Linked DNA regions of Homo sapiens: all the other regions are linked to region 1. The links come from fine-mapping of genetic effects on gene expression. A gene starts in region 1. Each other region holds a variant in brackets. All regions are shown on one strand. Distances are between the middles of the regions.

Region 1 (5,110 bases):
TAACGTTCTCACCACAAAAAAATAAGTTGATGAGGTGATGGATATGTTCATTAGCTTGACTGAATCTTTCTATAATGTATACATAGATCAAACCATCACACTCTAACCCATAAATTTACACAATTATTATTTGTCAATTAAAAATAATTTTTAAAAAAATTATAGGAAAACAGGCTTGAGACCTAAAAAAATAAAATAAAATAAATACATAAAGCTTAAAATGCATAAATTTTTAGGCCTATAAGCTTGCTATAGTGGGCCAGAAATTTGAAGCTGTCTTCTACTAGCCAAACTCAAATAACAAAACTTGAGTCATAATGTCCAAAATATTACAATATCTTACCTCTGCCAAAGAGATGAAACTATTCAGCAATGCCAACTATGTGATATTCATTTTGTAACTTATGAAAACATTCTATAAAATTATTCATCCAATATTAACTTGAATACGTGCAAAAAAGGACAGATATCCTTACATCACGTAAACCTGTTAGTATTCACCTGTGAGAACTGTTCAATTCTCTCATTCACATCAGGTAGCATCCATGTATCCTCACCCCGAAGTCGCTTAAGTTCTTTACGCCTTTCTTCTTTTTCAAAATTGGCTTTAGCCTACAACCAAAGAAAAAAAAAAGACAAACTGGCAATTGACCCAACTGGGTTTCACAAAAAAAGGAAAACAAAAACCTCTGTCATTTTTATACAAAAATATCCACTCATGAATGAATGTCTATTCCTTGCCAGGGATTTGCTTCTCCAGTGTAAAAAAATAAAAAAATAAATAAATAAACAAAACAAAGCAAAAATCTCTCCTTCTGCATTTCCAATCTCCAGTGATTTGAGTTACCAATCAGAGAGAATCCAGGGACTGAGTCCAGGCCCTCCCATCTCTCTAAGCTCCCTAGCTCAATATGACTTGGAATCCCTTTTCCCTTCACCATTCCCATGGCTACTGCCTTAAGACTTTTGCAACAGTTAGACCTCCACGCCTTCAATATGCAATGCCTGTAGCCCCAATACCCAGCCCCAAAAATGCCTCAGGAAGAATCATCTCTGTATAAAGAAAGGATCATATTGGTAATTTTTATCCATTCTTCAATGATAGTCAAACAAAGCAAGTTTTTCCTAGGAAATCGTTCCTGCCCTCTTTCTTTCCCTGTAACTCCAAAGCTCAGTTTGGTCCTTTTCAAATTCTATGCATATCTCTACTATAAGATTTATCTCAACTTACGAAACTTACTCCCTCCAAAAACTGCTGGAAATACCAAAGAGAAAAGAATGAATAATATATATATACCCACACACACACATTACATATGTTGAAATTACGAAACAATACCAACATTTCACCTACCCAAGACTAATCGCCCACTCTTCCCCTTTAAAACCTGGCTGTAGTCATTTTCTTTTTTTTTTTAATCAAATATAAAAATAATTTATTAAAGGTTTATATCAGAGAACTGCTGAAGCAACAAGAACTAGAAGAGTTAATATTCCAGAAAAGGGAAAATCATGGAGAGGTAGTCCAACATTCTGCAGCTAGCTTTTCCCTGGGTGCATATAATAATTCTTGGTGTAGGCAAGAAGATGAATACAATGGTTATATACCAAACAGAAAAATCGATATCAGAGAAAAGAGCAGGGCTTATGATGGACTCCAAAGAACAGGGTGAGAAAATTGGAGATTAAAGGAGAATGGGGCTGCTTCACCCTCAAATTATTTGCCAAATTTTGAAACTATGTCATTTTCCCTTTAGAGTCTCCTCTCCCTCTTCTCTGCTGGCTCCTTCTCATTTGCATTTAAACTTGTTTAAAACTCTTCCAACTTAAATAAAAACAAAAACCCTCACTGAATTCTCTGTTGCTCTCCAACTGCAACTTTTCTCTTTCATTGCCACACTTCTTACATATTGAATAGATTGTCAGATAATTCAGAAGCTTACTTTCTCCATTCTTTGTATGTTACCTCTATGTATCTGAAGTTTAGTGAGAAATACAATGTTTCGCGATCTTTTGTGACAGGCTAAATATACTGAGATTGGTGTTAACTTTTGTTTGGATTGGTAAGAGCTTACAGTAAGTCTGGAATTGATACCAATAGAGACAGGAGGAGGAAATGTCAAACTGAGTCTATTCAAGTGTGACTTGAATGTGTTTCCGAAAAAGGAAAATCTCATTTCAGATACAGCAGTAGCAATGACTGAGGCTGCGAGACATGCTGGCAGAGTCCTTACAAGCCGCAGGGGACCTACAAAGTGTGCAGTCCGAGTGATAGAAATGTAAAGAATGGGTAACTTAAAAGGTAAAGAAACTTGGAGAAAAAGCGACAGATCTGCCTGAAAAGAGAATTAGCAACTGGCACCTGCCAGAACATCTAAAAAATCGGTAGCTACAAAAGGGTTTACCGGCATTGCAAAGGGAGAACTCACCCAAATTAAGGTGAGATTCAGTACTGACGAGGTAAGGGAAGGGGTGAGTGGGCTAGCTTACGGGAACCCTCAACTCCCACAACAATAAATAACTACAAAAGCCCCAAAACAGAGGTACCTGGCGCAACACCTCGGCCCTGGCATTCCGGGTCTGTTCTTTCCGCTCTTCGATACTCTTCGCACTTTCAAATCTACCACTAGCAGCCGCCATACTTGTTGCCATCGTAAAGCTAAGAAGCCGCAAGAAAATTCTAGTTTACGACGGTCGTAATTTAACAAACAAACCGGGACTTCCGGACCCGAGGAAGGAGGAGCACGGCTCCACCAACAGGGCATGCGCACATCTGAGGTCGCTTAGGGCTCGGATTACCGCAGCCCAGATTTTAAAGACCCGAAGGGTGTTGGAGGGTTTAATTCTTTCAGGTGTTGGGTGCGATTGTGAGCAGGATTAATACCCGTATATATTTATTATGCACTTTTTACTATATTAACAGCTTTCTCACCAATTTCGTCTTAAAATCACCGGAGTAAGTTACAAGCTCTTGGAAGTTAAGTTGGTACCTCTCAAAAGTTTTCTGCGGAAGTACCCTTTGTCGCCAGAGCATCATTTCCCTGTGCTGGAGGAATGGGATAAAGGGAGGCTGCCAGAAAGGTAGTGGCAGCTGGCAGGAAGGACAGAATTGCCTTGAAGATTCAGTGTTTTGTTTTGGTGGATTTTACTTAATATATGAAACACTCATGTGAATTTTGCATTGCACTTCACAATTTACCCGTGCTTAACTTGTTAGAAGTTTACATTATATTTTTTCCTCTGACCCCATATTATTTACTCATACTTATCCATCCAAGCATTTTTCATTACAATGGACAGTTACTTATTTATTTCTGCGGAGATTTCTTTGTTTTGTTTTACGCATGTATCGCCCAAACATAAAACTTTTAAGTTCAGAAGAATAAGACATTCTAAGGTGATGAAGTGCTTTGAGAACATAAGACACTAAGCTTACATTTACAAGAAGAAGAAGGCTGGGGAATTAATTATAAACGATACCTTAAAGACGCTAAAAATAAGTAACATAAGCCAGGTTGAGGTAAATACTCTTTCTCTTCAGGTTTCATAAAATTTAATGTGTGTTTGCAAGAAGCTTTCCAAGAGTTTTTACATTCACTACCATTCTATGAGTCTGAATCTTGAACACACAATGCCTACTTGTTTGATATGCAATAGAAAGTATTCATTTTATTTTAAAATGTAATTTACTAATCGACCTTGTAATATTTAATCAACTGACTACATTGACTGATATTTGTCATAACTAGCATCAACGTCTTTTCAGATTCTCTTGGAATTCAGAAAAACATCCATTTCACTGTTTTGCATCAATTCAATAAAAATAAACTGTGATTATATTAGAAACGTGTGTGTTTTAATCAGTTCAGGCTGCTATAACAAAATATTATAGAATGGATGGCTTATAAATAACAAACAAGTATGTCTTACAGTTCTGGAGGCTGGATAAAATCAAGGTGTTGGGCTATTTGCTGTCTAGTGAAGGTGTGTCCTGGTTCCTAGAGGGCAGTATTTTTGCTGTGTCTCATATGGCGGAAAGGGAGAGGGATCTCTCTAGAACTTCTTTTATAGGAATTCATGAGGGTGCTGCTCTCATGACCTAATCACCTCCCAGAGTCCCTACCTCCATATACCAGCACATTGGGGATTAGATTTCAACATAAGAATTTTGGGGAAACAAACATTCGGTCTAGAGCAATGTGCAAAGTTATATGAAGAAAACTTTAAAATCTTGCATAAGCTCCCCAAAAAGACTAGAACGAATGGAGAGGTATACTATGTGCTTAAAGAAGAAAACATCATAAAAAATCATTTCTCAATTAATTTGTAAATACCATGCAATACAAATAAAACTGCCCAAAAAAAAGTTGGGGTTAGAGAGGGGAACTAGATATGTTAAAATAGAAAAAAGAAAAGAAAAGAAAAGAAAGAAAAAGCAGGTTATTTTGGCTAGGTTTGCATTTGGCCACACCTAATGCGAATCCAGTCACATGGCTTAATCAAATAAAGGATAACGTAACAAGGAGCCTAAAAGTAACTGGTCCAGGCTTGGTGCAATTGCTGAAGGAGCCAAATAGTTTATCCTTTTTCGCTTTGTTGCAGTCTGTGACTTTAGTATTTGTAGTCACAAGCAGGGTATCATATTCTTTCACATCTGTTCACGGCATCTGATAAACAAGAATAAAGAGAAAGGACAAAGGGTAAACGTTGTTAGCTAAGCTGGCCTCATTTTTTATTAGAAAAATGATGGCTTTTCCTAAAGCCTAGTTCAGTTTCTTTCATTTAAATCCTATGATCCAGAAATAGGTCAGATGATCACAATTAACTACAAAAGTTTCATGAAGATTGCAGGATAGTTGTGTTATAGAATGTCACTCAACTTGGGTTTGTCGGAGGTTCTTTTGTGATTAAATTCAAATTTGGCCTCTTAAGCAGGACGATCACAGAAGTGAGGCGGTCTTACTGCATCCTGTTGGGTAGCGCATGATTTCCATTTGTTCCATTACAGGTGATGTTAATTCTGATCATTTAAATAAACTGGCATCTGCAGAGCTTCTCTGCTGTAAAGTACCTCTTTTCCTTCTATAATAAGTATTTTGTGAAGTGGTTC
Region 2 (5,110 bases), 120 kb before region 1:
AGACGCAGGAGAATCACTTGAACCTGGGAGGTGGAGTGATCGTCACTGGGCGACAGAGCTAGACTCTGTCTAAAAAAAAAAAAAGGTAAAAGGGATCTCAAGAGGTCATCTGGCTCATCCTTCATTGACTGTAACCCTCAGCTAGTCTCAGATACAATACTATGTGATGCCTTAATAAAGGCAATTGCTGCTATCTTTGAAATCCTTTAAAACTGAATATACAACTGCCATTTTTACAGTATCTGTGTTTCTTATGTTTCATAATGTTAAGTTAAAATATTAAGACCTCCTGGCTACTTAATTCAGGTACTCATGGAGCTTTTAAAAAAGAAACAAATAATAAGATACTAGACATTTCACCAGTAAGAAAATGTATACACAGTATAGAAAACGGGGACTAATAAATCAAATTTTTTTCTCCTTTGAAATATTTTCAACTGTCATTAAAACTATGTTGTGAAAGAATACTTAACAGCATGAGAAATTATAACATGAGAAGTGAAAAACGTAGCACAAAAGATGTACGTACATTAAATGCCTTTTTCTATAGGCACAAAAAGGAGAGAAGTAAACAGTACATTTAGAGTTTTTGTTTTGTTTTACTTTGTTTTTTAATATGTTGTCTGGCCCAATTCACCAGCAGAGAAGAGAAAATGATTGTAGATAATGTTGTACCTCTAAAATAAAACTATGTATCTTGAATAATGTAATAAAATGGAATCTTTTGACTGGAATATAATAAGTGTAATAAGGAATCCTATTAGTTACGTGACATGTAACAGGAGTCTGGCTTTCCAAAAGAAGAAATGGGGGAGAAGTATTCCAGTGACACCTACTAGAATAGGGACTGGCAAACTTTTTCTGAAAAGGACCACATAATAAAATACTTTAGGCTTCGCAGGTCATACGTTCTCTGTAGGGACTACTCAAATCTGCCCTTGTACCATGAAAGCAGCCATAAGCAATACCTAAGCAAATGAGTGTGGCTGTGTTCCAATAAAAGTGCATTTACACAAACAGGCAGAAGACTGGGTTTAGCATGCAGGGCTTGAGTTGCCAACCCCAGCACTAGACTATAATCTCCATCAAGTCTGGAATCTTTCTGTTTTGTTCCACTGTGTACCAAAAGCATCTTGAACAATGCCTGGTAAATATCAGGCACACAATAAATATTTGTAGAATAAACTACTTTTTGAATAGAAAAACAAAAACGAACCACACTTCTATTAAATCTCTATTCCATTCCATTTAATTTGTATTTCTAGAAAAGAGAAAAAATCATTACCAGACGTGCTCAACTTAAGTGTAACTTGTACATAAAAGCTGATCTACAAATAAAGATTAAACTATGAGGTATGATTAGGCAAGTCTCCAAAAGAACCCACAATCTAACTCAACTACTATTTTATAGTTTTATAGGAACATAATAGTGAACCTTTGTATAAGAAAAAGAAAATGAGTTCCAAATTCAAAATGGAACATCTAGGAAAATTTTTCTCTCAGTATAATTGCAGAACAATATATTTCAGGAAGGCCCTTCTCACCATTTGTCCCACAGGGGCTGAGAAGCTCACCACAGCAGTTCTCACGGCAGACTCTAATAGCTGCCATAGCCAATTATAGGGACTACAGTGGCAGAAGGCCAAAGGTCAGGAAGAAACATTCATGTGAACAAATAAAAACCCTCTACAAACAAATAAGCATTTTCTAGACCAGGTAGGATAAAAATAACTTCATTTGTCGAACTAGTAATTTCGCCTTCAGTCACTCAACCAAATGGTCCCTTTGTCAACTAAGACATGGAAATTAATAAAGATCCTGAGCACTAGGGTAATTTCTTTTACCAGGAAAAAACATACTTACAGACTTTCTGATATCTTTTGAAGAGAGATCTATCAACTTCTTGTTCATGGACCACTCTTCATCAGATTCCATTATGGCTTTCTAAGAAATATCCATTTGTTAAGTGAAAAAAGAACATGTAAGTAAATAAAAAGAAACAGCTTATAACAAGTAATATAGCAAATTAATTATGGGGTATATTATACATAGTAAGCCATTATTCTGAACTGATTAAGGCTTTTAGTTATTTAAAATAAGAACTTCTTAAATTTTTGAAATCTTACCATTAGCCAAAGATAATATTCTTTTACTCATTCTTAACTGTTATACTAACTTGAGCTCAACTTTACATGGCAATCCTTAATAAGACCAATCAATTTAATATGAAACATAATTTGTGATCATAAAGTTCCATTTATAGCACTGCATTCATAGAGATTACTAAATAAATTCATTTAGTTTTACTGCTCTTCTTCCAAAAGGCAACAGAGTAATTTACATGTTTTCTAGCAACCAAGGTCTTGAACTATTTCTGCTCATATAATGAAGAAGTAAAAATACAGGAAAAAAAATGTGCTCTAGAAAATAAAGCCTATTTTTTAAAAGTCCAGGAAGCATAAGTCTATTTCAAGCAGATAGCAACTTAACTTTGATTGCATGCAACTCAATGCTTTTATTTACCCCTCACACATTTTATGTTTTTGATGTCAGAATTTATATAACTATAATTTGTCAATTTGTAATTTAAAAAATAAGAATTTTTTAAAATGTAGGGAGAAAATACATAGAAATGGAGTAAGACTTCCTATGCTAAGCAATGTGACTACTATTTATGGTAAAGAAATATTTAAAAGAAAGAAAAGCCAGAGTGATAAATATAAAATAACCTCATGTTTTTACAGTATTGTTATTAATGAAGCAAATTTTAAAGATAAAATAACATTCAAATAAGTTCTATTTAAATAGAACAGATACAGTGCTATTACCTATTTAAAAGGCACCAGTTGCTTGGCTTGACACTGTAATATAGCACATTCAATATAAAAGCATCTTCAATGATCACATAAAAGGTTTAGTGTAGGCCAGGTGCAGTGGCTCACGCCTATAATTCCAGCACTTTGGGAGGCTGAGGCGGGCAGATCACGAGGTCAAGAGATCGAGACCATCCTGGCCAACATGGTGAAACCCCATCTCTACTAAAAATACAAAAAATTAGCTGGGC[G/A]TAGTGGTGCATGCCTGTAGTCCCAACTACTCAGGAGGCTGAGACAGGAGAATTGCTTGAATCCAGGAGGCAGAAGTTGCAGTGAGCCAAGATCAGGCTCTGTCACCCAGGCTGGAGTGCAGTGGTGCCATCACAGCTTACTGCAACCTCCGCCTCCTGGGTTGAAGTGATTCTCCTGCCTCAGCCTCCTGAGTAGCTGGGACTACAGGTGCCCACCACCATGCCCAGTTAATTTTTGTATTTTTAGTGAAGATGGGGTTTTATCATGTTGGCCAGGCTGGTCTTGAAGTCCTGACCTCAGGTGATCTCCCCACCTTGGCCTTCCAAGTGAGGCACTGTGCCCGGCCTATTTCATTTCTTTATATAAATTTTGATGTAAGTATATAGGAGAAAAATATGTTAATAAAGACAACAATATTTGTAAAATAGCACTATAGCAAAAAATAAGTGTATATGCAAAGACTACTTATAAACACCTTAAAATAGATGGGAGCCATGTCACCCACTTCCTTGGGAAGAGGAATACATTCATAAACCATGTGATACTGTTTCTTCATGCTCATATTAGTTTCCAAAAAAATGCAGTCTAATCCTTTATCTTCAAACATCTTTACCAATGATTTTCTGAACATCTAAAAAAAAAAAAGAACTAGGTAAAGAAAACACTTAAAGGAGATTCAAAATCAAGCATATTCAAGATATTTGAAATATGAAAACTTTAATAAAAAAGTACAAATCCCTTTAAAATGAAAAATAAATAAAATAAACAGTAATATCTGAACTCTGCAATGTTATAGTTACTTTACTTTCTAAATCTACTATATAATTTCATATATTTAAGCAAGACTTTTAAAAAAACTGAAACCCACTATGTATATATTAGAAATAGTTTCAGTAAAATGAGAGAAAGAAGTGATAAAAATCAAATTTAGGTGGTAAAATATGCAGAACTGACAGAACAATCATAGGAAAATATCCATAAGCCAAAAGAGATACTCTGAGCAGATGGGCATCCTTAAACTCAGAAATACATGAGAATTCACTTCCAATTGTTTTCCTATGCTCATAGCATCTGCATTTGTTGGTTCCCTATGTCTGCTGACCCATCACTAATAACCTTGTATATTCAGGTAGTCCTCTATTTTCACATATAATGCAGTCCTATAAAGCATATGAAAGCCAAATACACTAAAGTTGAAAAGTAATAGGGTTTTCTCTTCCCAAGGAACTAAGTATTATTATACAACTATACACACAAATATAATCAGTTGTGGAGGTGTGTGTTTTGTGTGTGTGTGTGTGTGTGTGTGTGTGTGTGTGTGTGTGTGTATTTCACACTCCTAGGCCTAAAGGGCAGCTGTTTGTAGAGGGTGACTGAATAGAGCTGAGTGGTCCAGGATGTCTGCATGCATTCACATGACACCCCCTGTAGTACAGGATGGAGCTAGGGATCGAAAGAAAGGGGAACAGGCTGAAGGCTGGATGCCAGAGCCCAGCTCCGTCCACATCACCATGTCTTACTGTGAACCCCTCAAGCTGTCTAAGAATTCTGGATGAGCGCGGTGGCTCATGCCTGTAATCCCAGCACTTTGGGAGGCCGAGGTGGGTAGGTCACCTGAGATCAGGAGTTCAAGATCAAGTTGTCTAAGAATTTTAAACTAAAGTTGGCCTTGTAAGAGTTTATGAAAGTATATTTAAGTAGGAAGATAAAATGTATTTTATTTAGATTTGTCAGCTTGATTTATAACTTTTTAATATTTTATTTAAACATTTTGTTTTGAGGTAATTACAGATCACATGTAGTTATAAGAAATAATACAGAGAGATCCCATGTATGCTTTACTCAGTTTCCCCAAGGTAACATCTTATAAAACTATACTATAATATCACAACCAGGATATTGACATTGATATAGTCAACACTGAGAGCAATTCCAACACTGTCCATAAAGATCTTCTGTTACCCTTTTACTTTCTCTTCTCCTTTTATTTTTAGAGATGTGGTTATGCTATGTTGCCCAGGCTGAAGTACCAGTGGCTATTCACA
Region 3 (5,110 bases), 32 kb before region 1:
GTATAACACAAATTAAATAACCACAGTTCATGCCCTTTCTAAAGAGCACCAGTGCAATTATTCCCCTATGAAGTCGCTTTCTCCAGGGTCTGTCTCTCAAATTCTTGTTTCCTAAGTGAGAAACTTCTTGGCTTCTTTTCCTTCTGCCATTTGTACCTGACCAGGTTTTTCTTTCCAACTAAAGTTATGTCTAGTTCCTCCATTTCTCATCTCAACATCGGCCAACTAAGAAACCAAAGAACCAAAGAAAGGTTCTTTAGGATAACGAAGCTATTTACGCAGTATTTCTACAATCCTTTCTGTTATTCCAATAGATGCTTACTATAAACCAGATGTAGAACAAGTCCACACATAATCTCCTATTGAGCTCCATATCCAGAAATAAGTCATCTTGCAAGCAACCTTAAGTCTGACAGGATCAGAAGAATTAAAGACCAAGCCATCCATCAATCCATCTCCTTCTCTTGAGGAGAAATGTTTGAGGATTATTAACACAAACGACTACATCAAATGTCAATATGACAATAGATACCTACTAATATATATGAGCAAAAAAAAAAAGTATAAATACCTAAAAACAGGGTACTAATCAAATTCTCAGTTTCTAATGTGAGCTTCTCATGAAGAACTAGAAGTTGTTTCTTTATAATACCAATACCAATCATAACTGACTCTCCATATATAGATCAAGGGGATCACCAATATTCTGGGAATCATATGTCAAAAAAATACTGGCATTAAGTCATTAAGAAATAATTCCTCAAATTTCTCCCTTGTCACCCACAATCTGTAGCCACATTTCCCTCTTTTTTTTTTTTAACTATCTCCACCCAAAGCTAATCCTTCTACTTTTATAACTGAAATGGACCCCACACTCACCCATACTAACCTCAGGGATCTTGCTCAGTTGCCCCATCTATCATCTGCCTAGCTGTCTTGCTTCTTCTAAAAAGGATACTGACTCTTTTCCATTAAATATAAACATGTTCTAGTATAAATACACTTTCTATCTCTACCATTCCATAACTCTTAATAATTTAGTCTACTAAAATCTGGCTTCTATACACCCTTTTATAATAAAAAAAAAAAAGCCCGGATTAAGTAGCCAAAGAAGTTTGTTATTATCCATCCAAAGCGCACATCTTTGTCATTTTACTTTCCTCTTCCCCTCACTTCCCAGGATAAAAGTTTAGATATTCAATCAAGGAAGGGCAATGAAGGTAGGCTGAAGTGCATCTAAAGCCCACGAGTTCCAGAAGATAACTAGAATCTCAATAGATCTTTAAAAGAGGTGATTTCCATTGTCATGAAATGGAATGCTCCACACAATTTTTTTAGTATTTTCTAACAAGAATTAAATTGTTTATTAGTAGATGAGGATAAATGACAAAAATATACAAGAATTCTGAACATCTTTTATAGTAGTAATTTCAACATTAAGTTACTTGAACACAATGTAACAGTAATAGGTGTCAAGTAAAGACATTTAAATGAAAGTTGTTGAGCACAAAGTAACTGAAGAAAATATTATTCTATTTTATTTTGTGAACACCACAGCAAAGACACTGTTCTACAGCAAACATCAGGGAATGGGCTCTTCCTTTCTTTCCCCAAGTGTTTATAATGATGAGCAAATGCTTTGAAAGAAACATCACCATGACACCTGCAATTATCCTGCAAAAAGAAAAAAAGCCCAAACATGTCTCAATTTCAAGAATTACTGCTATATTTCAGAAGTCCTTTTTATAATTAATTTCTAAAAAGCAAATCCTATTTTCACATTAAAATGTACTCTCTTTGAAACACACACACACACACACACACACACACACACACACAAAGAGGTTGAAAACCTTTGAGAAATAAGTAACTAAAAGAGCTCTAGCCCAGTAACATTTTTAAAACCTGAAATTAGTCATGCATAGCATAACGACGTTTCACTCAACGACAGACCACATGACAGTAATCCCGTAAGATTATAATGCTGTATTATTACTGGACCTTTTCTATGTTATGTTTAGATACACAAATACTTATCATTGTGTTACAA[T/C]TGCCAACAATGCTCAATACAGTAACATGTTCTACTTTGCAGCCTAGAGGCAACAGGCTGTACCATATAGTGTAGGTATGCACTAAGCTTAAGTACACACTACGCTGTCCACACAATGACATCACCTAATAATGAATCTGCCTAATGACAATTTCTCAGAATATATCCCCACTGTTAAGCCACATATAATTTTATTATTCTTGTGCTGGCAGTGTTCACAGATCTCCCTTATTTACCAGCTGCTCTCATATTTGCTTCCTTGCTTAAAGATCTCACAACTATACTCAAAGCCTTCAGAATCTAGCATCCTTTGCTTGCCCTTCTGGGCTACAGTAACAAACTCTGCCAAGAATGACATCCAAAGGTTAAAATATTATATAAAATGGGTTAGTTTCTGATATTAAATTTGTAAAACCAAAATTAAGGACTTCTCATTAATTTTTGTTCACATTACATACTCCTCTAAGTTTTAAATTCCTGGAAATACTTAGCCAATATATTTTCTAACACAAGAAAAATATATGCAAAAGCACATTTCATTTCTAATAATAAAAAGCTCAAGGTTCTCAATTGCATGGCAGTGGACGTTTTTCTGCTAGTTAACATAATCGCAGGGCCTAAAATGAATAAAGAAAAAGAGTGATAAATTTGAACACATTAAAGAAAGAATGAAAAATGAAAGGAAATTTACAAATGATGAAAAATCTATTTGTATTACATGACAAATATAAAGAGCTCTCACAAACAAACAATAGCTCAAAAAAAGGGCAAAACATATGACTAGTTAACAAAAAAATACAAATAAACAACACATAAAAATATGGCAAACTTCACTCATATTTAAAAAAATAAAAATCAAAGAGTCTGTTTCTCAACTACACATATGGCAAAGATTTAAAAAGTTCAATAATACTATCAGCAAGAAGTAGGAGAAAAGTCATTCCAATGCAATATAAAAGTCTAAATTGGTTAATACTGCAAAATATGTAAAAAGTAAAATGCATGTACTCTTTGACCTGACAGTTCCACTCCTTGGAATTTATTTTACAGCTATATTTAAATAGCATGCAAAGATACTCACAAAAAATTAAATGCGGAATTGTTTCTTAGAGCAACAAAGTGGAAACAACCTAAAATTCCATCAATAGGAAACCAGTGAAAAATATTAGGTTATGCCTAAGTTTTACAATGGAGTATTAAAGAGCCTTTAAAATAAAAAAATGTAGGTACATATGGGCTAAAGTAAAAAGATCTTTAAGATATACTTATTGGGAAAAAAAACCAAGATTTTGAATGGTATATGCATTGTAGAGCTATTTAACTTACATATATTAAATATATAAGTTATGTTTTTATAAAATTTTATACATTAAGTTAAATATATATATTACACATTTTCAAATACACTAAAAAATTTGGAAAGACACTACCAACACTGTTAACCTGGCAAATAGGATTAGGGTTGGAAGTGACATGAAAGGGAGATTTACTTTTTCATTTTATACTCACCTATGCTTCATATTCTTGTTTTATACTCTTCTGTCTATATTGTTTAAATTTTATACATATACATTTATTAAGATTACAAATGGCATGTTCTAAAAAATAATACTGGTGTAAATAACAAGAAAGGTAAAGATATATGAACAATACATACAAAGAAGTAAAAACTAATTCAACTAATTTTTCCAATCATGACCATTCACTTATAAGACAAAGATTATTTGTAACAACTAGGCATTCTTCAAGGTCCTGTCTTGGTCTCCTACTTTACAACCACTCTACATTCTCAGGAATCTTTTTTTTTGGATGATTCCTAGATTTTTCTTTCCCTCTCCAGCCAGTCACAGAATTCATAGAAAGCCTCAAACCCTCTGTACCATCAAATTAACACAGCGAACAAAGAATACTGTCTTCAAAGGAAAAATTACATGTATACATACATATATATACACACATATATAGCTTTTAGTGAGTGCTGTCTTCAAACCGAAAAATTATATACATACACAGCTTTTAGTGAGTGCCTGTATTATAGTGTATCTATCAGAAGCTTACAACTTAAATAAGACATACAAATATGCAGCAATCAGACAACCGGTTGGAATACTAATCGTGTGGTATTACTTTGCAGACATTTTGCTTAGCTACAGTCACAGAAGAAGGCCTACAGATCATCCAAATGCTAACCCAATCCTAATGATATCAGGAAATAAGAGCCTCATTCCCCTAGTGACTGGGAACTGGAAATAGTCTACCACCCAGGGCACCTGGAGTGAAGACTGGACAATTACATATGCATACAGCCTTAGACAATAATCCCTGCCATGTTTGTTTAGTCAATACAATTGGATTTCTCCTTCCACTTCCTGGGAGGAAAGCCCTGATGTGAACCAGAGTCCATTTGACTGGGGCTTAATCACTCAGTTCAGATTTTGCCAGCTCCCTCCCACCGAAAATTACACACTGAGTTTTATAATCCACTGCTTCAGATGGAGTCATTAACAAAAGTGATTTATCAGACTCACAACCCCAAACCACAGTGCTTTTATCTACTACAACCATGTGTTTCTATTATTTCCTAAAACCTCTTCCTTTAGTGTCCCACTCATTTGGTGCTATTTTTAAACATATTTTAATGATCATTCACGTGTAAGTTGTTACCCTTTGGACACTTTTTTTTCTGGCTATCTCCAACAGGGCCAGCAAATTTCTAAAGCAAATTTTCTTAGGTTTAGTCCCATTCAACCTGGGTTTCCTCATCTTCTAACCCAGCCCTACATAAATGCAACATATATTTTATATTTAAAACTCTAATATTATCTTTAAAATCTGTCAATTGCCCAAAGTGGATTATTTCTTTCTTTGTGCAAAATAACAACCATAATTCATGCTCCCCTCTGCAAGATCTCTGGCATGTATTTGTCACTTTATATTTGGGCCGTGGCAGCGTGTTTTCCTTTTGTCTCCTAGACTTCCTATAGACATGCAGTATTTATGATTATGATTATACTCAACAATAAGATAATTTCCTTAGAAAGTAATGGCATTGGTAACAAA
Region 4 (5,110 bases), 48 kb before region 1:
TTTTCAAAGAATAAACTCTTGGGTTTTTAAAAAATCATTTCTATTTATTTTTTATTTTCTATTTTAGTAATTTCAGTTTTTAATCTATCCTTTGTATATCGTATCTACTCTTTGTTATGTTCTCTCTTATCTCTTCTGTGTTACTATTGGCTAATGCCACAGACATTATTACTAATTATTAATAAATAGCTATATTAATTATAACTTAACTTTCTGTTAAAGAATGACACACAGATTATTTACTATTTTTGAGTAGACAAGACCATAATAAATATTATAAGATTTTTCTATGATTCACTGTGATATAGCAAGTGTTTTTCTTTTCTTTCCTTTTTTTCAGTATTCTGGAGTTTCACTCAACTAATTTTTTCTCTTCCTCATCAATCTTCATTAACAACTGTCTACTATAATTATTCTAGTCAGAACCTCTTGGTACCTGCATATTTATGCACTATGAAATTGAAAACTGTATTTTCAGTTTTTATAAAGCACATTAAATTTGATTTCTATCTTCAACAATCTGTTATGCAGTCTACAATATGGTTAATTTTAAAACATGTACAAGGATAAAACTTACCTTGGGTTTGTTTTTTTTCCACTTAAAATGTTTTCCCTTTAAACTGCAAATATATAATTATGTGACATCGTCCCTCCATCTAACCCTTCCCCCTACCAAAAAAAAAAAATTCTGGAAACAGAACATATATGAATTCATCCGTCCAAGACAAAACCTAAGTCTCAAATGCTACTGAACAGTATAAGGACTCAGTATTTTTCATATGCAGTAATATTTCATTTTTCCCTTAAATTTAACAACAGAAAAGGGAATTAAATGCTAATAGTAGAGTTAGTGAGAAAAAAATAATGAGCATTTGAGGGAATAGAAGCAAACTGAGGAAGGAGAGAGGCTGCTGCTGGGTCCCTCTCTAAGGAAATCAATTAGTTGTGGCTTCAGTATCTGTTACAGAGCCCTGTTCAAAGTTTGAGATAGTCTATGACATAATTCTTCATCCCAAAATTAGATCATTAATAAATATATAATCATAACTATCCAAAACAACTACTCTACAATTTCTCCAAATTAGACCTGAGAAAATACTGTTCATAACACAATAAAAAAAATTTTTTAACTACCCCAGAAAGCATTGAGAATTAAATACATCCTATAGTCATATGAGTGGGTGTTTCCTATTCCATGACTGAAGCCTACAGGTCAACACTCCCAGCTAGGATAATACCATGCTAAAGATTATTTTTCTGGTAAACAAATAAGGCTTACAGATAGTAGTCATAAATAGAATAGCTTTTCCTTTGGCAAAGTTACAAAATGGTAACAGGATCCCAAAATAATGGCTATAGCCTCAGAACATTCTCTGGATGCCCAGATTGCACTAGGCCCTGTTCAATACCTCCATATTTCTATACTTTTCCTTTGAAGGACCGTCAAAGGACTGTAATTATATATTTATATAATTAATCTTATTTGTATGTTCTCTTTCCTGAAAGAAAGCTTTTATAAGGAGTATATGATGTCTGAATTAAGATCTCAAGGATATACAGAAGGTAACTACATGAAAAATACTCTAGGCAAAGAAAGACTGTAAAGGCACTGAGGCAGGAGGGAAAATAGCTACTTAGGAGGTCAAGACAAGAGATGATGGTCATCTTAGTGTGGTAGATATAAAAAACAAAGAGGAGGGTTAAGAAATATTTAGCAGGTAAAATTGTCACCATTTCACGATGAATTTTATGTGAGGTATGAGACTAGAGAACAGACAGATTCTGCATGCTAATACTAGTTTGTATTTATACACCATTTTCTTTAATTTATTTTTTCTTAAAATATTTGCTCCTATAGTAATACTCTATTTCAAGAAATAAGCCCTCTAGTAATGCCTAAGATGGTATTTCTAACTGCACAGGACAGAAATGACAGATACTTTAAGGAGGGTTAAAAAATACAAGCTGAACTGTATAGAAAATAGGTACATCCATTGACCTTTTTTACTTGGCTGGGGAAAAAACTAGCTAAATGACTAAAAGGAAATAATATTTTTGCATACCTACTCTGTGTCAAGCAAGAC[C/T]ATACCTCAGGAAAAGTGTGCCTACAGTAACATGGCAAGGTAAACAGAATAAATGCAAAGCTACAATAATGTTTACTTTAGATTTAAAATATTTGACCTAGAAAATTGAGAGTGCAAAGGCCTTCTACAAAGAAGGAACTGCAAAGTATTCATTGAGTAAAGGTCAAACCTCACTGTTTAAATATTAAAAGTAAACCACAAGCAAGTTTTTTATAGTCTTGTAACTTTTTTTCTGTTGTACTGTGCTTAGGGGATCAACTGCAGGGATTGGGATGCTAAAACATTAAAAAAAAAAAAAGACACAGTCTAACAGTTCACATATTCTGGGAATCACACCAATGACAAGTGAACTTGTGAACACAGTGAACGATGCACCCAAGAATCAGATCCAAAAGACAGTGTTAAAGCAGTAATTGAATATGGTCAAACTACTACTGGAAATACTTCAAATAACTAGTCAAGTACCTGATTTATATACAAAATGATGAATGTATCTGTTTATTTATTAATGTTTCTCTATGGCCCTTAGTTAATTCCTCAATTTCTTTAAAGAGAATGTCCATAAACCCCCTCTACGTACATGCAAAGGGACCAAAATGCATTTCTCCTCTTTATCAGCAGTGTAGACAAAACTTTAAAGCTACTACACCATTAGGCAAACATTATTTCATTCTTTGTTACAAATGTTGAGCTTAATTTCCTGCGTTATCTTTTCTTATAAAGTACAAAGCTAAATTCCTTTAGATTAAATGTATACATAATGTGACTCCATTGAAGGATTATTAACAGGCACAAGTTATGGAAGGGCAGATTAGGACTAACATATTAAAGAATTAGGATTGGATTTTTCCTGATATAAAACTAGCAATATCCAAAACTCAGTGAGACCTCATCACTCAGTGTTCAAGCACAAGTTAGATGGAGAAGCTATGTGGTGGGCTTAATGTTAAAATAAAGAAGCTGTACTTGTGTGATGGCCAGACTAGATGATGTGAAAGATCATGGATCATTTTTAAGATTTACAATAAAATACTACAGAGAATAAAATAAATTAAAGACATTCATAAAACAAGTATTTCAGTATGTCTTGGTCATCTACAAGATGTCAAGTATTACTCTATGTACTAGATATGAACTGAAAGAATAACCCTTGTCCTAAATACTAAATAGTTCACCCTCTAAAGAAGAGGGATAAGGAAACTAATAATTAATAGTGCTGATGGTTTTTCACTAAAGCCAAAATGGTATTCATAGATATGTGAATGAAGAGATTTACCTTATTCCTGTAACTTAATACTTCCAACAAACGAGCTAAGCAATGAAAGAATTCTTCGCTGTTCAAGCGTTCTATGCATGGGGTTTTCTTTTCTCTCAAAGAGCAAAATTTCCATCAGAAGTATTCCATGATTTTCCTCTAGAACGTCATCAAATCTCCATAGTAGTAAACAACTTTGTATTCCACTCTGATTTCTAAAAAAAAACCACTTTGAAAGGTAATCAAGGCCCTGGATCTGATGGAATAAATTACTTTAGTTGCAGTAGAGAATTCTTTCAGAATTTTTGGCAAAGATTTGTTTTATACATATATATACTTAGTAAAGCTTGAACCAGATGTGCAAGTGTGCTTGAACCTTCTCTGCAGAGAAGATGAAAATATGCCTTTCTGGTCAAAGAATCCTTAGGGGAAAAAAAAGCTTTCTATTTGAAGTTTCAAAGGGCTATACAGTTCCCAAAAGGGACTAACAAGCAGAAATAACACTTCGTATGATACTTCGAATACTAATCTACTGAGTACTGAAGTCCACTGCTCAAAGATAGGAGGAGCTAGAAATTTAAAAAACAATCAGTAATATCAGAGTCATGTGCACAAGGGATGAGATATAGCCTGTCAATTATTCAGTCATATCCTCAAAACCGTAGGAGAAATGTTATTTAACAGAATACCTGCTTCAAATGTTTTCCTTCTGTTCCAAGCCGCAAACCAGCTCTAACATTTCAAGCAAGGTTTCTCTATGTGGCTCCTTTTGCTTGCCTAAGATACTTTGAAAACTGACTTTACATTAAACAACTGCACAGAATAATGGAAAAAGCACTTCACTTTAGGAGGTGTATGAAATAAAATCTGGTGGGACATAGCAAACCTTAGTCAAAAAATGAGAAGAAAATGGTCAATTTATTTGGTAGGGTCAGCAAAGCTTGACTACAAGAAGTAACACAAAAATCTCAGGCTTAGGTCTATGCTTTTATAAGAGTGTGGTGTGTGTGTGCGCGCGTGCGTGCACACACACACACACACACACACACACACTATCATAAAACAGCAAGGTATATTCTTATTGGTTAGGGTCCCATACAGTAGTCTCAAATTTCTGACCCATTATTCTGTTAATTCTATAAAGATCTCTCCTGCTATGGAAGGACCTTAACCTGCCTAAAACAGTTAATTTCCCTTAGATGGTTAAGTAACTTTGCAACTCTGAGATTAAGAAATAAATCAAACTTAACCTTTTATATTGTGTTTAAGTAAAAGTATAGTAATAGCTCTGCAACCTTTTTTGATATAAAATTTATTTCACTTTAACACAGGAAACACATTTTTAATGGCACTCACGTTCATTTATAATGACTTGTTCATTATAACTTTTTAAGAATGTGTGTTTGTCTTTTGAACGTATTTGAAACCCTTAAGTGAATAAGCTATACAAAACTAATAACAGCTTAAAATTTTATAATTTAATTAAGCTAACCATGAAAATGGTAAAGAATTTTAGTCTGATTATTTCTTAAAATAATTGAGTGATTTGCTAAATTTACCAAGAGCATTTAATGCTTAAGGAAGGGCAGGTTATTTAAGCTAATAAATTTAATAAATATACTAATTAAAATTAAGTATTCCTTCCTATGCTCTCATACATTTAATGCCCCTTCGGATATTTTAAAAACCTGATTATCAAAAACACTGGTTTTTCTATTCTAGAATATATGATAATCAAAGTAAAATAGAAGAGTACTTATGATTCTTATTT
Region 5 (5,110 bases), 540 kb after region 1:
AACAGTAGCTCACGCCTGTCATCCCAGCACTTTGGAGGCTAAGGTCGGGGGATCACTTGAGGTCAGGAGTTTGAGACCAGCCTGACCAACATGGTGAAACCATGTCCCTACTAAAAATACAAATAAAATTAGCCAGGTGTGGTGACACACCACTGTAATCCCAGCTACTCAGGAGGCTGAGGCAGGAGAATCACTTGAACCCAGCAAGCAGAGGTTGCAGTGAGCCGACATCGTGCCATTGCACTCCAGCCTGGGAGACAAGAGCAAAACTCCATCTAAAAAAAAAAGAAAAGAAAAACCCACCTGTCACAACAATTCTGGCATCTGGCATCTAACTCCGGTTAGTGTGGACATCATCTTTTCTATGTTTCTAGAAGGCATCAACAGAGAAAGTTGGCACTACCTCCTCGGGTTCTTGCCAAAACATTAAATCCAATATCCTATGAAAGAGCTCCAAAATCAATAAAATTTTCCTCACTCAACCTTATATTCTGGCCTGCTGATCAAACACCTTCAGAGACCGATAGCATGCACAATACTCCAGCACATATTGGCAGTCCTATAGCTCTTTTTGGAATACAGTCTCTTTCCTCCCTTATCAAGCCCAGCACATTTTTAACTGGGTTATACAGGCCCACCTCAGAGATATTGCAGGTTCAGTTGCAGATTGTTGCAATAAAGTGGGTCACAAAATTTTTTTTGTTTGTTTTTTTGAGACGAAGTCTCGCTCTGTTGCTCAGGCTGGAATGCAATGGCACAGTCTCGGCTCACTGCAACCTCTGCTTCCCGTGTTCAAGCAATTCTCCTGTCTCAGCCTCCAGAGTAGTTGGGACTACTAGCTAATTTTTGTACTTTTAGTAGAGATGAAGTTTCACCATGTTGACCAGGCTGGTCTGGAACTCCTGACCTCAAGTGATCCACCTGCCTTTGCCTCCCAAAGTGCTGGGATTACAGGCGTGAGCCACCGCACCTGGCCTTTTTTCCTTTTTTTGTTTTTTGTTTTTGTGTTTGAGGCAGGGTCTTGAGCTGTTACCCAGGCTGGAGTGCAGTGGTGCTAGTCTTGGCTCACTGCAGCCTCAACCTCTCAGGCTCAAGCGATCCTCCCACCTCAGCCTACCAAGTAGCTGGGACTACAGGCATGTGCCACCAAGCCTGGCTAATTTTTGTATTTTTTGTAGAGGTAAAGTTTCATCAAATTACCCAGGCTAGTCTCGAACTCCTGGCTCAAGTGATCTGCCCACCTTGGCCTCCCAAAGTGCTAGGATTATGGCATGAGCTACTGAATCCAGGCTTTTTTTGTTTTTTTGTTTTCCAATCCTGCACCTTCTGTAACAGAATTTTTTGTTTGTTTCCCACTGTATATATAAAAGTTATGTTTTTACTCTACTGTAGTCTATTAAGTGTGCAATAGCACTATGTTTGAAAAAATAATGTACATACCTTAATCTAAAATGTTGTGAAAAAAATGCTAATGAACCTAACCTTTCAGCAAACCATAGTCTTTTTGCTGGTGGAGGGTCTTGCCTGGAAGTTGATGGCTGCTGACTGATCATGGTGGTGATTGTTGAAGGTTGGGGTGGCTGTGGCAATTTCTTAAAATAAGACTATGGTGAAGTTTGCTGCATCAGTTGACTCTTCCTTTCATGAAAGATTTCTCTGAGGCATGCCATGTTGTTTGATAGCATTTTATCCACCGTAGAACTTCTTTCAAAATCAGAGTCAATCCTCTCAAACCCTGCTGTTGCTTTATTAACTAAGTTTATATGATATTCTAAATCCTTCATTGTCATTTCAACAATGAAGGATTCAGCATCTTCACCAGGAGTAGATTCCATCTCAAGAAATCACTTTTCTCTGCTCATCCATAAGAAGCAACTCCTCATGCATTCAAGTTTGATCATGAGATTGCAGCAATTCAGTCCCATCTTCAGGCTCCACTTCTAATTGTAGTTCTCTTGTTTTTTCCATCCCATCTGCAGTTACTTCCTCCACTGAAGGCTTGAACACCTCAAAGTCATCCATGAGGGCTGGAATCAACTTCCTTCAAACTCCTGTTAATGTTGCTATTTTGACCTCCTGCCATGAATCACAAATGTCCTTAATGTCATCTAGACTGGTGAATCCTTTCCAGAAGGTTTTTGATTTATTCTGCCAAGATCTG[A/T]CAGAGGAATTGCCAGCTATGGCAGTTACAGCTTTAGGAAATGTATTCCTTAAGTAATAAGACCTGAAAGTCAAAATGACTCCTTGATCCATGGGCTGCAGAATGGATGTGAGCTAGCAGGCATGAAAACAACATTCATCTCTGTTCATCTCTGTCAGAGCTCTTGAAGCATTTTTGATGAACTGTAGCATTTTGAAAGAAATCTTTTTTTCTGAGCAGTGGGTCTCAACAATGGGCTTAAAACAGTAAACAATGCCACAAACATATGTGCTTTGTCTAGGCTTTATTGTTCCATTTCTGGAGCACAGGCAGAGTAGATTTAACATAATCCTTTTCTTTTTTTTTTTTTTTTTTGAGATGGAGTCTTGCTCTGTCACCCAGGCTGGAGTGCAGTGATGCGATCTCTGCAATCTCGGCTCACTGCAACCTCGCCAAAGTACTGGGATTGTAGGCGTAAGCCATTGCACCCAGCCAATTTAACATAATTCTTAAGGGCCCTTGGATTTTCTGAATGGTAAATAAGTACTGACTTTAACTTAAAATCACCAGCAGCATTAGCTTCTAACAGGAAAGTCAGCCTGTCCTTTGAAGCTTTGAAGCCAGGCATTGACTTCTCTAGCTATGAAAGTTCTAAATGGCAACTTCTTCCAAAAGAAGGCTATTTTGTCTACATTGAAAATTGTTTATCACAGTCACCTTCATCAGTCATCTTAGCTAGATCTTCTAGATAACTTGCTGCAGCTTCTACATAAGCATTTGCTACTTCACCCTGCACTTTTAAGTTACGGCGACAGCTTCTTTCCTTACACCTCATGATCCCAACTATGCTAGCTTCAAACTTTTTTTTTGCAGCTTCCTCTCAGCCTTCATAAAATCGAAGAGTGTTAGGGCCTTGCTCTGGATTAGGCTTTGGCTTAAGGGAACGTTGTGGTTGCTTGGATCTTGTATCCAGACCTCTAAAACTTCCTCCATATCAGCAATAAGGCTGTTTGGCTTTCTTATCACACAGAAAGGGTGTGGCCTTGGGTAACGTGGCTCTCTGCCACTGAGGCAATCCCTGAGGAAACTGCTAGCTGAATGTTGCCTGTCAACAGCACTGCCAGAATCTGGGGCAATAAGTCTTTCACAGAGGGATGATCAGAGTGGGGTATCTCAGTGTCCATCTTAGAAGATTATGAATTAGAAAGACTTAAGGGATATATCAACCACCTATATTGTGTTGATCATATGTTCCTGATTCAACCACAGAAAAGATTTATGTGGCTGGGCATGGTGGCTCACACCTGTAATCCCAGCACTTTGGGAGACCAAGGTGGGAACATTGCTTGAGTCCAGGAGTTGAGCCTGGGCAACATAGTGAGACCCCATCTCCACAAAAAATACAAAAATTAGCTGGGAGTGGTGGAATGTGCCTGTAGTCCTAGCTACTTGGGAGGCTGAGGCAAGTGGATCACTTGAGCCTAGGAAAGTGGGGCTGCAGTGAGCTATGATCACACCACTGCACTCCAGCCTGGGCAACCGAGCACGACCCTGTCTCCAAAAAATAAAGGAATGATGTGACAGTCAGGGAAATTGGAATACTAAACAGTGATATTAAAACATTATTGTTAGCTTTTTGGTGTGATAATGGTATTATTTTTCTAAAGAGCTCTTATCCTTTAGAAATACATACTAAAATGTGTATGAATGAAATGATACGCTATTGATTACAAGTGGGTTGGAGTATACATGAAATAAGAGTGACTATGAGTTGCTGGTATGTGTAGAAGACAAACAATGGCCCCCTAAAGATGACCACATCCTAATTTCCAGAATTTGTGAACATGTTACCTTACACAGCAAAAGAGACTTTGCAGATGTTGTGATCAAGTTAAGGATCTTGGGATGGGGAGTTTAACCTTTTCCAGATGGCCACAATATAATCACAAGTGTCCTTATAAGAGGAAGGCACGAAGGTTAAAGTTAAAAAAAAAAAAGACCACGTGTAAATGGAAGTAGAGGGGAGCAGATCAAAGACAGAAGATGCTACACTGCTGGCTTTGAAGATGGAGAAAGGAGCCACCAGCCAAGGAATTTGGGCAGCTTCTAGAGGCTGGACAAGGCAAGGAACACATTTTTCCTGAAACCTTTAGAAGGAGTGCAGTCCTGCTGACACCTTGATTTTAGCCTTCTGACCTCCAGAACTATAAGAGAATAAGCTTGTATTGTTTTAAGTCACTAAATTTATTATTTATTTATTTATTTTGGAAACAGGGTCTTGCTCTGTCACTCAGGCTGGAGTGCAGAGGTGTGATCTTGGCTCACAGCAACCTCCACCTCCTGGGCTCCAGCTATCCTCTGGCCTCAGCCCCCCAAGTAGCTGGGACCACAGGCACCCGCCAACATGCTTGGCTAATTTTTTTGTATTTTTTTGTATAGATGGGGTTTCACCACATTGCCCAGGATGGTCTCAAGTGATCCTCCTGCCTCGGCCTCCCAAAGTGCTGGGATTACAGGCATGAGCCATCAAGCCTGGCCTTCTTCAACATTTTTTTAAGCCCATATCTTAGTATGTCCTTCCACATTTTATCTCCCTAATACATTTTCAATTGTCTTGTCAAGTTTCTGTTAAAAAAATGATTGAAGTATTATATTGAAATTTTATTGAATATGCAGATTAATTTGGCAGAATTAATTTCATATTAGAGGTGAATGTAACAGGCTGTTCCTGCTAGTCTGAGTTGATTGTGTATACCTAGTGGGAAGATTCAGGCTATCGTCCCTTCTAAGTTTCAAGAATTGAAGGGAGGTCTGTGGTTCTCCAGCCAGTCCACCTATGACAGAATGCACAAGTTCTATTCAAACAAAAGAGAGGGAAAAATGACCAGCTGGGGCCTGGTGTGGTGGCTCACTCCTGTAATCTCAGCACTTTGGGAAGCCAAGGTGGTGGATAACTTGAGTCCAGGAGTT

Alleles and levels. Alleles are on the strand shown, and positions count from the first base shown. SD is a standard deviation of normalised expression in the study named. Not every link is listed here.
In carriers of allele G in region 2, the expression in transverse colon of the gene that starts at base 2,661 in region 1 tends to be higher than with A alone (small effect, 0.33 SD a copy in GTEx).

The links. PIP is the estimated chance that this variant, and not a neighbour inherited with it, causes the effect.
Region 2: its variant is the best candidate, but not a certain one, in a credible set for the expression of CWF19L2 in transverse colon (GTEx, PIP 0.60).
Region 3: its variant is the best candidate, but not a certain one, in a credible set for the expression of CWF19L2 in fibroblasts (GTEx, PIP 0.59).
Region 4: its variant is the best candidate, but not a certain one, in a credible set for the expression of CWF19L2 in tibial nerve (GTEx, PIP 0.58).
Region 5: its variant is the best candidate, but not a certain one, in a credible set for the expression of CWF19L2 in anterior cingulate cortex (GTEx, PIP 0.52).

The regions. Positions count from the first base shown.
Region 1 is chr11:107,455,165-107,460,274 of GRCh38, forward strand. CWF19L2 (CWF19 like cell cycle control factor 2) reads right to left here and starts at 2,661. Exons shown (of 18, transcript NM_152434.3): 1 at 2,548-2,661; 2 at 502-612. The coding sequence starts at 2,652. RefSeq lists an enhancer at 2,440-2,945.
Region 2 is chr11:107,333,018-107,338,127 of GRCh38, forward strand. It overlaps CWF19L2 (CWF19 like cell cycle control factor 2), which reads right to left. Exons shown (of 18, transcript NM_152434.3): 15 at 3,541-3,696; 16 at 1,864-1,944. Among named protein-coding and RNA genes, the nearest start is that of CWF19L2, 120 kb to the right of the region's middle. The variant G/A (reference allele first, on the strand shown) is at 3,065.
Region 3 is chr11:107,423,378-107,428,487 of GRCh38, forward strand. All of the region lies in intron 8 of CWF19L2 (CWF19 like cell cycle control factor 2), which reads right to left. Among named protein-coding and RNA genes, the nearest start is that of CWF19L2, 32 kb to the right of the region's middle. The variant T/C (reference allele first, on the strand shown) is at 2,051.
Region 4 is chr11:107,406,727-107,411,836 of GRCh38, forward strand. The region is part of intron 10 of CWF19L2 (CWF19 like cell cycle control factor 2); the gene reads right to left. Among named protein-coding and RNA genes, the nearest start is that of CWF19L2, 49 kb to the right of the region's middle. The variant C/T (reference allele first, on the strand shown) is at 2,085.
Region 5 is chr11:107,993,047-107,998,156 of GRCh38, forward strand. No RefSeq gene overlaps it. Among named protein-coding and RNA genes, the nearest start is that of CUL5, 13 kb to the right of the region's middle. The variant A/T (reference allele first, on the strand shown) is at 2,162.